Linked DNA regions of Homo sapiens. The main gene of each other region encodes a partner of the protein of the gene in region 3 in a complex. Each region holds a gene or a part of one and is shown on either strand. Other genes may lie near its edges. A codon is read from its position in the direction of its gene.

Region 1 (3,653 bases), on a different chromosome or scaffold from region 3:
CAGAACCAGGTCTGTCATGGCACTGGCCTACCTCAAGCCTCAGTTTCTTCATATGGAAAAGAGAGATGGCAACATCCAACTCACAGAAGGGTGGGTACAAATGCGACAGTTCATGCAAGTGCCTGCCTCGTCAATGCAATAAATGTGGCACATCTGGGAGATGTGTCCACCAGGAAGTAATTCCAACTAGTGAGTCACTGGAACATTTCTATTTCAGTGTGTGTGTGAGAGAAAGAAAGAGACAGGGAGAGAGCAAAATCTTCATGAATTTTAGATAGAATTAGAGACATCAAAGACATTTCTTGCTTGTAGGAGACTGCTTCCAACTCCACCTGCAGCAGAGCCATGTTTTGATAGCTTTCAGCCTTCATACCCCCCTGCACTGGCCACACCCACATCCTTCCCTCCTTGTAGGACAGACAAAGAAGCTCAGAAAGCACTGGCCCTCGCCTGGGGAGAGGGGACTAAGGCAGGAAAACCAGCCCTGAAGGTGGAGGGGAGACACCCCCATCAGGCTGCATCCTGTATGTCCTGCCTGCACCATCAAATTCATGCAGCTTTAGAGGTGTCTCTAACTCCTATCTCCCTCTGAAAGCAAGTAACACTTCCCACGGGGCTTCTTGGAGAAATGTCCAATTCCAGGTCCGGGGCTGGAAATGTACAAGAGAAGCCTGCAATATCTTCTACCAGAAAGCAAAAAATCACTCAAAGACAACCAGGGTCATGTCAACAGAACTCAGGAGCCAACATGAATAGGTTCACGCTGGCAAAAAAGGGACACTTGAGCATTGTAGGGATGACACCTGCAGCGTGGAAACCTCAACACCCGGCGGGCCTATTTGTCTGTTATGATACCCAGGTCACCTGGGAACCAATTCATTATTTTTAAAACTAGTAAGTCAAAGAAAATAAGCAGGCATTTACCTGACTAGGCTTCAGTGCCTGACTGCCAAATTACAGAAAACACAGGTGACAGAGGTGTGTGTCTAATGGGGACATAATTAGCAATATCTCGACTGCAAGGCTCAACAGAACAAATGACCCAGTTTCTTCCACAAAAAATTACAAGGAAAAAAGAGATGGAGAAAAGATCTAAAGATTATGAGACTTAAGAGATATCAACCAATCACAACTTATGGATCTTATTTGGATAATGACTCCAAGAAGCTGTAAAAAACAGGGGGAAGGGGTAAGATAATCAGGGAAATGTGAACAACAACAGAATATTGGATATTAAGGAATTGTTAATCACCTCTTAAAGTGAGATAATGGTATTGTGGCTAGGTTTATTCAAAGAGAGTCTTTTCTTTTTCATATACATACTGATGTAGTTACAGAAAAAAACGGCATGCCTGGAATTTGCCTTGAAATATACCAAGGGTGAATGGGTGGTGTATTAAGAACACTCGATTGGCTGTGACTATGACAGCTGTGGAAGCTGGGTAGAGTGCTACAGTTTGAATGTACCCCCCAGAAAGCATGTGTTGGCATCTTAATCCCCCATTTAACAGTATTAAAAGGTGGGACCTTTAAGGGGTGATCAGGCCATGAGGGATCTGCTCTCATGAATGGAGGATAAAAGCACTGCTATCCAGGGAGTAGGTCCTTGTAAAAGGATGAGTCTGGCCCCCTCTGGGCTCTCACTCTGTCTCTTTAACTCTCACCTTTTTGCCATGGGATGACATGGCAAGAAGGCCCTCACCAGATGCCAGCCCTCAATTTTGGACTTCCAGCCTCCAAAACCATAAGTCAATAAATTTCTGTTCATTATAAATTACCCAGTCTATGGTATTCTGTTGTAGCAGCAGAAAATGGACTAAGACAAATGGTCAAAGTTCACTACACCATTCTACATACCTGTTTGAAATTTTCTGTAACAATGTTTTAAAATGTGGGCCAGGCCTTATGTAACACAGAGTGCCCATGGAACTCACAATAACCAAATAAACTCACCAACTGTTGGCACAATACAGTCACTGGGAGCATGGACTCAAGCCAGGCTGCTGACTCTGCCACTTGCTATGTGACTATGGCCAACTTATCTAACCTTTTGTGCCTTAGTTTATTCATCAGTAAAACAGGCAGAGATGAAACCTCACAGGAACATTGCTATCTAGAAATTACCTAGACAATGCCAAGCAGATACTAAGTCCTCAGTAAGTATAATGACTCTCTTATGAAACTCTTACTTTGTGCTGCAGATGCTGGGCAGACCACTCCACGGACCTCTCATGCCCCAACACACCTCGTGCTGGATGTGCCAAGACTGCCAATCCTTGACTCCTCTTAACCCAGCTCATTTCCCCGTATAATTTTTGTAGCGAGCAACCTTGCAGGATGAGGTAATGTCTCCCTCCAGGGCCAAGAGCTTCCTGCTTGCTATGCAGGGCAGATTGCCCAACTCAATCCCCCTCCTGTAAAGCAACCACTGCATCCAGGGGGACTTCCCTGTGGGACTGGAGGGCAAGCAGCGCAAATGTGTGAATGCCTACACTGCCTGCTGTGCCTTCCACCGCTGACCCAGTTACTCCAGGAGAGAGTAGCAGGCTAATTTAATGGCTGGAAAGTGGGGCAGAATCAAATCCCAGACCTGCCAGGGAATAACAGCGCTTTCCATGAATTACCTCATGTAATCCTCATAATAACCTTGTTTCTCTCGATCCTACAGAGGAAACCAAGGCTCAGGTCAAAATATTTTCTCCTAGAGGAGAGGCAAGACTCGACCCCAGATGCATCTGAATCCAAAGCTCATGCTCCTCCTGGCTCTAGGTGTGCTGCTTCCTAGCACTCCTCAGTCTCCGCACCCAGCAAACAGGGATAGAGTGCCCACCTGAGTGGGTACTGTGAGCTCCACCCAGCAAACGGAGAAAAAGCACCCACCTGCATGGGTACCATGAGCCTGAGATAATGTGTGTAAAATGCCTAAAGCATCAGGCTCAAAGCTATTTTTGTCCTACCTACTGGCTGCTTATGCTTTCTACACGCCTGTCACAGGCTCTTCCATCCAGTTTTTGTACAAATAGTTTAACTTTGGTAGCCATGTACAGTAACAGCCAGATACTGAGCACTCGCCAACAGCCAAGTACTTTATATGCACTAATTTATTTGATCTTTATAACAACTCTATGAGTGTTTACTCTCATCCTCTCATTTCTATAGATAAGGGTGACTCATCTGACCATCCTAAGGATTAGGCCAAAATTCAAACCTAAAAAGTCTGGCTTCAGACTGCATGCTGCTTCTGTTAGTTCTTTAAAATCTCTAAGTGTTGGGCATGACCCTGATCTCTTTAATACTTTACCAGATCAGTGTCCAGGGCCCACGGAAGGCAGGCAGGGCCATGAAACTGACAGAGTAGGGGACGGGGTAAACCTGGGGACACAGGCCCTACCTGCAAGGGCAGCTATGCCTCAGCTCCGTCAGCGTTACCAGAGAGGAACACAGAGCCAGCACCCACAGATCTTGGATTTTCAAAAAGCATCCGGATTTCTATGTGAAGTCTCCGGATCCCTCAAGGATGATAACTAACTCAAAATAAAAACAAATACAAAAAGTCAGCTGTTGGCCGGGCGCGGTGGCTCACGCCTGTAATCCCAGCACTTTGGGAGGCCGAGGCGGGCGGATCACGAGGTCAGGAGATCGAGACCATCCCG
Region 2 (3,653 bases), on a different chromosome or scaffold from region 3:
GACACTGGGGAGCCATGGAAGGATTGTGAGCAGGCAAGGGGCAGCATCCAGGGGGAAGAGGAGCTGGACCCCAGCTGTAGAGAAGAGAGAAGAGGGCAGGAGAGATCTGGCAGACAGTGGATGTCAGGGTGAGGAGGCAGGAGGAATGCCTCCAGGATCTCCCTGGGTGACTGGATGGATGACAAAGCCGTCGGCAGCTTGGGACCCTGGTGAGGGGCAGGCACCTGCAGGGGGCATTAATCACCCCAGCGTGGGGCAGGCATGAGCAACCTCTATCTGTGGGCCCCCAGGGCCATCCAGGAAGTTTGGAAACGGGTCTGAGGCTCACCAGGTCTGGCTCAGAGCCCAGGGTTCGGGCTGGTCAGTGTAGGAGGGATGACCACCCACTGGTGGGTTCTCATCCGCCTGGGGAGAGGATGTGCTGGGAGCACTGGAGCTGGCTTAGGGCCATGGGCACCAACATTTAGGGAAGGCAGGGGTTTCAGGCTTTCATGAGAGGACAGAGGGACTGAGAAAGGTTGACTTGGATCAGGAAAGAGTTACGGGCTTATGGGAGCCAGAGGAGATGAGACTCAAGATTTTCTCACTCATTCACTCAAGATGTGTTTCGGGAGCACTGACGTCATACCAGACCCAGCACACACGGGGTCGGTTAAGAATACTCTGAGCTGCAGGTAACAGAAAACCCAACTACATTGGCTTGGACAAAGAAGGATCTGTTTTTCTCACAAAAGAAGTTGCAGATGCTGGCTTTCCTGCCCAACAATCCATGGCAGCTGGGGCCTCTTCCACTGTCTCATGCCTCCACCCTTGATGGGTCGTGTTCACACTCACACTGCTCTCCGTGCCGCCTTGTGGCCCCCGTGGCTGTCCAAGTCCCGGGTTTGTTGTGAGTTGTTGGCCACTTTGGAGAATCCCGTCCCCTTTGATGTGTGATTCGATAACATCCCATTGGTGAGGCTCACACTGTCGGCTCTCCCATTTGTGGCAGTTTCGCTTCAGGCGCGAGGCCCACCTTCATGTGCTCTGTGCCGCGGCTGAGCATCTGTGGACTGAAACGCGCACTTGTTCGTTCATTACGGATTGCTTTCCCTTTCATTCTTTTCTGTGTTAGGGTTAGGGCGTTATCTCGATAGGTGTAGGCAGGTTATGTTATCTCCACATTTTATTTCAGACCAGAAAAGAGGTGACACACAGTATCTGGTGACAAGGGTGTGTTGGTTCTGATAGGTTGAGAGCTGCTTGTCACAGCTGTCACCGTGACTTGAGGCTCCATCTCCCCAGCTCTTACACCCAGGCGCCCATGGGACCCAGCTCTGGACAGTAAGTGGGGCCAGAGCACATCCCACGTGTGTAAGCTGGTGGCTCCAAAACAAGCCGAAGGGTCTTTGGTCACTGCCAGAGATGTTCATGACCCGCCAGAGGAAAGGGTCCCTTGGCCTTCTCTGCTCTGTCCACACTCACTTCCCTAGTGACCTTGTCCCGCCTGTGGCTTTAAATCCCATCCGCGCCCTGATGACACCGGCCCAGATGTCTCCCCTGAGTGTGGTCATGCTCGTTCATCCACCGCTTTCCTGGCTCCACGTGCATGTTTGCTGACTTCCTACAGCCAGCGTGGCTGGGGGCACGTTCCCCAAGCCATTTCTACCAAGTGGGTGAGCGTTAGACACAGGGAGGTGCAGGGACTCGCCACAAGCACACACAGCTGGAGAAAATTCATCCAGGCCGCGAGAGAAGGGAGACACGCAGCCACAACTGTCACCCTCGACACCCCCACCCGCGCTCTCCCCTGAAGGTCGGCAGCTGGAGTCCGTCCGGGCTGAGGCAGCCGAGAAAGGCGACGTGGGGCTGGTGGCCGAGAACAGCCGCAGCACCCAGAGGCTCATGCTGCCACCACCTCCGCTCACTGCCTCCGGGGTCTTCAGCAAGTTCCGCGACATCGCCAGGCTCACTGGCAGTGCTGTGAGTGGGGCGGGCCGCTCATCCCGGACCCCAGACATCTTGGGGACCTGAGGCCACGCGTGTGTCAGGAAGGCTTCTGGGTAGACCATCAGCTGGGTCGCATCAGTCCTTCTCATGGGGTGCACAGCTTCCTCTCCTCCTTCCTGCACCCAATCCTAGGGGAGTCTCCTCTTCAGAGTCTAGCAGACCTAATGCCATGGCTGCCACATGACAGGACTCAGTAAATACTTCCTGGATAAAGGGAGAGGGAGGCAAGGAGGAGAGCTAGCTCGTTCTTACTGCCCTAAGAGTGGGCGGCCATGGGAGCTGGGACATGGGGATGGGGTGAGGGAAGGAGGGCAGGTATTCCAAAATGCAGGGCAGCAGCACGGCTGGTGGGGTGGAGGTGTGGTCCCTGCCTTCACCAGGCACTGACGGCTCTTCCCCTGACTCTCCAGTCCACAGCCAAGAAGATAGACATCATCAAAGGCCTCTTTGTGGCCTGCCGCCACTCAGAAGCCCGGTTCATCGCTAGGTAAGCGTGTGGGCCTGTGAGGCTACAGAGGGGGACTGCAGGCTCGGAGGTGAAAGGAGGGAGGGACTGGCAGCTGGAATCATCACAAATGCCCTGACCATCCTTGGATGAGAAAAGCATGAGCAGGAGGCCCAGCCCCTAAAGAGTGGGAAGGGACACCATTTCCTTTCACAGGCCAGCTTCTGTCCCTTGGTAGTGCTGTCTAGAGAAGGCCCCTGGGCCCCTGTGGGTGAAGCATGCTGTGATTGATTGGTGAGGTCTGCCTCGGCTTGGGCGCGGGCCCTGCAGCAGGAAGCCAGGGTTTGTTTGCCATGACAGTGAGAGCAAATCCATTGAGGGCTCACATCATGGAGCATTTCTTGGGAGCCCTGCCCTGTGCCCCGTGCCTTACCTCATCAGTTCCTACCAGCAACTCTGTGAGACTGGTCTTGTTACCCTCACCTCCAGTTTATAGAAGGGGAAATGGAGACATGGGGAGGCAAACTAAGCCACTTGTCTCCTGCCACTGGCTCAAAGCAAGGACCATGCTGGGGTCCTGACCATTACAGTCACCAGGGCGGGCGCCAGGCTCAGTTCTCTCCCTGACTCATCCTCCTCAAGCCTCGCCAACCCCTCAGGGCAGCTGAGATGGGAGGTGCTGGTGCACCTACTTGTGCCCCTCCCCAGTCTATGCTAGTGGGCAGGATCATTACTGCCTGGCTCAGTTTCCTCATCTGTCACATGGGGCTGTGTGATATCTGGGGTCCCTTCCAGGCTCTGAAGATTCTTCTGGTTTTTGAGGAGAGGGTCTACATACATCAAGGTCGAGGAGATCAGAGAAGGGAGGAGGCAAGATTGGGGAGGTGCAGACAAGCCCCCTTCCCTGGCCTGCTCTCTCCCCAGGTCCCTGAGCGGACGGCTGCGCCTTGGGCTGGCAGAGCAGTCGGTGCTGGCTGCCCTCTCCCAGGCAGTGAGCCTCACGCCCCCGGGCCAAGGTGAGCTCCTGTGGCCCGTCTCTGCATCCCTCGCTGGAGTTACCTCAGGCTTCCCCCCTCCTCTTCAGAGGCCCATGCCCGCCCCTTCCCCAGCGGGCCCCTGCCATACCAGGCTCCTCTCTCCTGGGTGGGGGGGAGGGGGCGTCTTGGGCCGCGGCATCTGCATTCCTTGCCATACAGCAAACCACCCACTGCACCCTGGT
Region 3 (2,659 bases):
CTCCTGACTTTAGTTGATCCGCCTACCTCCCAAAGTGCTGGGATTACAGGTGTGAGGCACCGTGCCTGGCAAAAAATTCTTAATACACAGCACACAGTGAACTTGTAGCTATTAGTGGGAATGTTTTTAAGTCTTTCTTCACAACTTCAGGGCTTTTTCACTTTCTTGGTTGGATCCAACATCCGTGGAATTTAAGACATCTTCATCCTTTGAGTGAAGTTGCAAAGTGTACTTATACTAGAGAAATTTTGTACAACCATACTCCTTGGGCCCCATTACAGCTCTACTGAAACATCCAAGACTCTTGTAAGATTCCCCAGGCTAAAAAGAAACACTCCATTAACATCTTATAAAGCCCACACGACTTTCGGTACATTAAGCTTCTGAAGAGTATTAATTTTTGCCAAGTAAAATGAAATACACAGGATTTGTACTACTCTCTCACTTGTTCCTTGAGCTCAAATTGGAATAACAAGTTTGACAAGTGAATCCCCTAAAATATCTAGTAACCTACTGTATTTGAAATCCTTTTGATCTCCATCAGGCTGCTCTAAACTGAAAAACCATTTAAACGAAAGGGTAGCTGTAGCTGGGAATTCAGTAGGATACTTCCAACAGTCCTGGTCAAAATGAAGACACTGCCCTGTGATGTTTGAAATTCAAGTAACTTTATTTAAATTCAAAAACAATTCTTAAAACTGCATTTAGAGTCAAGACCCTTTTGTATTATAAAAATCACAAGTATTTCTAAGAGACAAAAATACTTCTAGGTTAACTAGACCAGATCTGACTTTGGACTTTATTCTTTAAACAAATTGCAGAGAATAGAGAAAAAAATAGGTTATTTACAGAAAACAATATCTACATATGTACTTAGAGGTACAAATTTGGTGACAGAAAAGACTTCAGTATATGCTGGCATCTTAGAAGCAGTTCTCAAAGAGCTTAGTTTTATTTTCTTGAATTTTAAGAATGCCTAAGATCCTTCTTCATCCTCGATCTTGGGAGCCAAGTAGTATTTTAAGTGTCCCATATCCGCAATTTTATACTCTACAACTGAAAGACAGGAAGATGGTTAATTACTGAGGAGTATGTATCACATATGACTACCTACAAAACAAGGTTCAAATTTATTATCTTACCAAGGGGTACATCTGCAGACATACTGAGTGTCACCGTTGAAGAGAGTGGAGTGGCTTTTGTAAAGAAGTTCAGGTACCTCAGTGCAAAAGTTAGTTGAACTGGTTCATTCATCTCTATGGTAACCTACAAAACAAAAGATTCATCATTGAAAAACATCAAGAAAGTTGCAATCTATTAGCTCATTATATATTTATAAAAACCCACAAACACTTGTATTGGTCACTTTGGAGGGAGCTATGAAAATTTTGAAGACTGATACATAAAGCAAAAGACTCGATTATCTAGCTTGTCTTTCCTATAGCTATAATTTAGATAACCAAATTATATAATATGGGAAAGCTTTTCTTTATGGAAGTTTTTCTAATAAGCAGCCAATAAGTGAATAAAACGTATTAATTTCAGCTCTGCAAACTCTAATTAATGACTTAATGGATCTAGACAATGACTATTATAGCTGCTAACATTGCAAACACATCCAGACACCCTGTGCCTCCTACTAGAGGCACACACCACCACCTATATTCTTGCTCTCTCACCCCCGAAACAAAACACCCTGAATATCAAGGCTCCAGGGCTATAGCTACCAGTCTGTAGGACACACAGGGTAGAGGAATTTATGTATACACAGGAATGCAATCAGCAAAATCCAAACTCTGGAAAACTTAATAAATGATCTAATTTCTTCAACAAATAGATTGTAATGGAAGGGGGAAAATGAAATTAGGGGAAACCAGGCTAGGTGTGTTGGCACACACCTGTAGTCCCGGCTACTTGGGAAACTGAGGCAGGAGGATCACTTAAGCCCTGGAGTTTGAGGCTGTAGTGAACCGACTGCACCACCGCACTCCAGCCTGGGTGGACAGAGCAAGACCCTGTCTCAAAAACAAAGAAAAACAGAAAAAGAAAAAAACGAGGTTGGCAGGAGTGGAAATGTGATTCAGGAAACAGATAAAGAATCAGCTCCTAGACTTTATTAATTTAAAAAAAAACCTTTCAACTGAATTTTACCTTTATTTAAACTAAATGTTGACTACCCATTCAAGGGACAAGAGAGCAATATATAGTATTTATTGTAAGCTTATAATATGCCACACACAGCATATGCTAAGCTCTTTAATGCTACCGTATTTAATCCTAACAAGGTTATGAGGTTAGGACCTTTGTCCTTGATTTACAAAGTTTTAATTTATGCCCAGGTTAGCGAGTTTTTTTTGTTTGTTTAAGATGGAATCTTGCTCTGTCACCCAGGCTGGAGGGGAGTGGCATGATCTGGGCTCACTGCAACCTCCGCCTCCTCGGTTCAAGTCATTCTCCCATCTCAGCATTCCAAGTAGCTGGGATTACAGGTGTGCGCCACCACACCCGGCTAATTTTTATATTTTTAGTAGAGATGGGGTTTTGCCATGTTCTTTCTATTTTGGTTAAACAAGGGCTCTCTAGGTACTCTCAAAGTTGCATGGAGTCTGCTTTCTAGCCTTAGTGAGAAGTCTCCTTCCTGTTTAACCTTTGATTCCTA

The links.
Region 1: PCNA (region 3) and MCM2 share a complex: the UniProt entries of both Homo sapiens proteins name them as parts of the replisome complex.
Region 2: the proteins of PCNA (region 3) and LIG1 are in contact, whole or in part, in a cryo-EM structure (PDB 8B8T), measured with the Homo sapiens proteins. Residues at the interface, in NP_002583.1 of Homo sapiens: Met40, Ser43, His44, Val45, Leu47, Leu126, Gly155, Arg210, Ala252, Pro253, Lys254, Ile255; in NP_000225.1 of Homo sapiens: Ala361, Gly363, Arg364 (codon at 1,798), Ser368 (codon at 1,810), Ser388 (codon at 1,870), Thr389 (codon at 1,873), Gln390 (codon at 1,876), Arg391 (codon at 1,879), Leu392 (codon at 1,882), Met393 (codon at 1,885), Leu394 (codon at 1,888), Val432 (codon at 2,439).

The regions. Positions count from the first base shown.
Region 1 is NC_000003.12:127,611,909-127,615,561, reverse strand, and holds part of MCM2 (DNA replication licensing factor MCM2), read right to left. Parts: intron 1-3,653. UniProt on the Homo sapiens protein: Acts as a component of the MCM2-7 complex (MCM complex) which is the replicative helicase essential for 'once per cell cycle' DNA replication initiation and elongation in eukaryotic cells.
Region 2 is NC_000019.10:48,135,831-48,139,483, reverse strand, and holds part of LIG1 (DNA ligase 1), read left to right. Parts: intron 1-1,795; coding exon 1,796-1,962; intron 1,963-2,399; coding exon 2,400-2,476; intron 2,477-3,358; coding exon 3,359-3,450; intron 3,451-3,653.
Region 3 is NC_000020.11:5,114,307-5,116,965, forward strand, and holds the end of PCNA (proliferating cell nuclear antigen), read right to left. Parts: intron 1,267-2,659; coding exon 1,143-1,266; intron 1,057-1,142; coding exon 977-1,056; 3' UTR 647-976; downstream 1-646. UniProt on the Homo sapiens protein: Auxiliary protein of DNA polymerase delta and epsilon, is involved in the control of eukaryotic DNA replication by increasing the polymerase's processibility during elongation of the leading strand.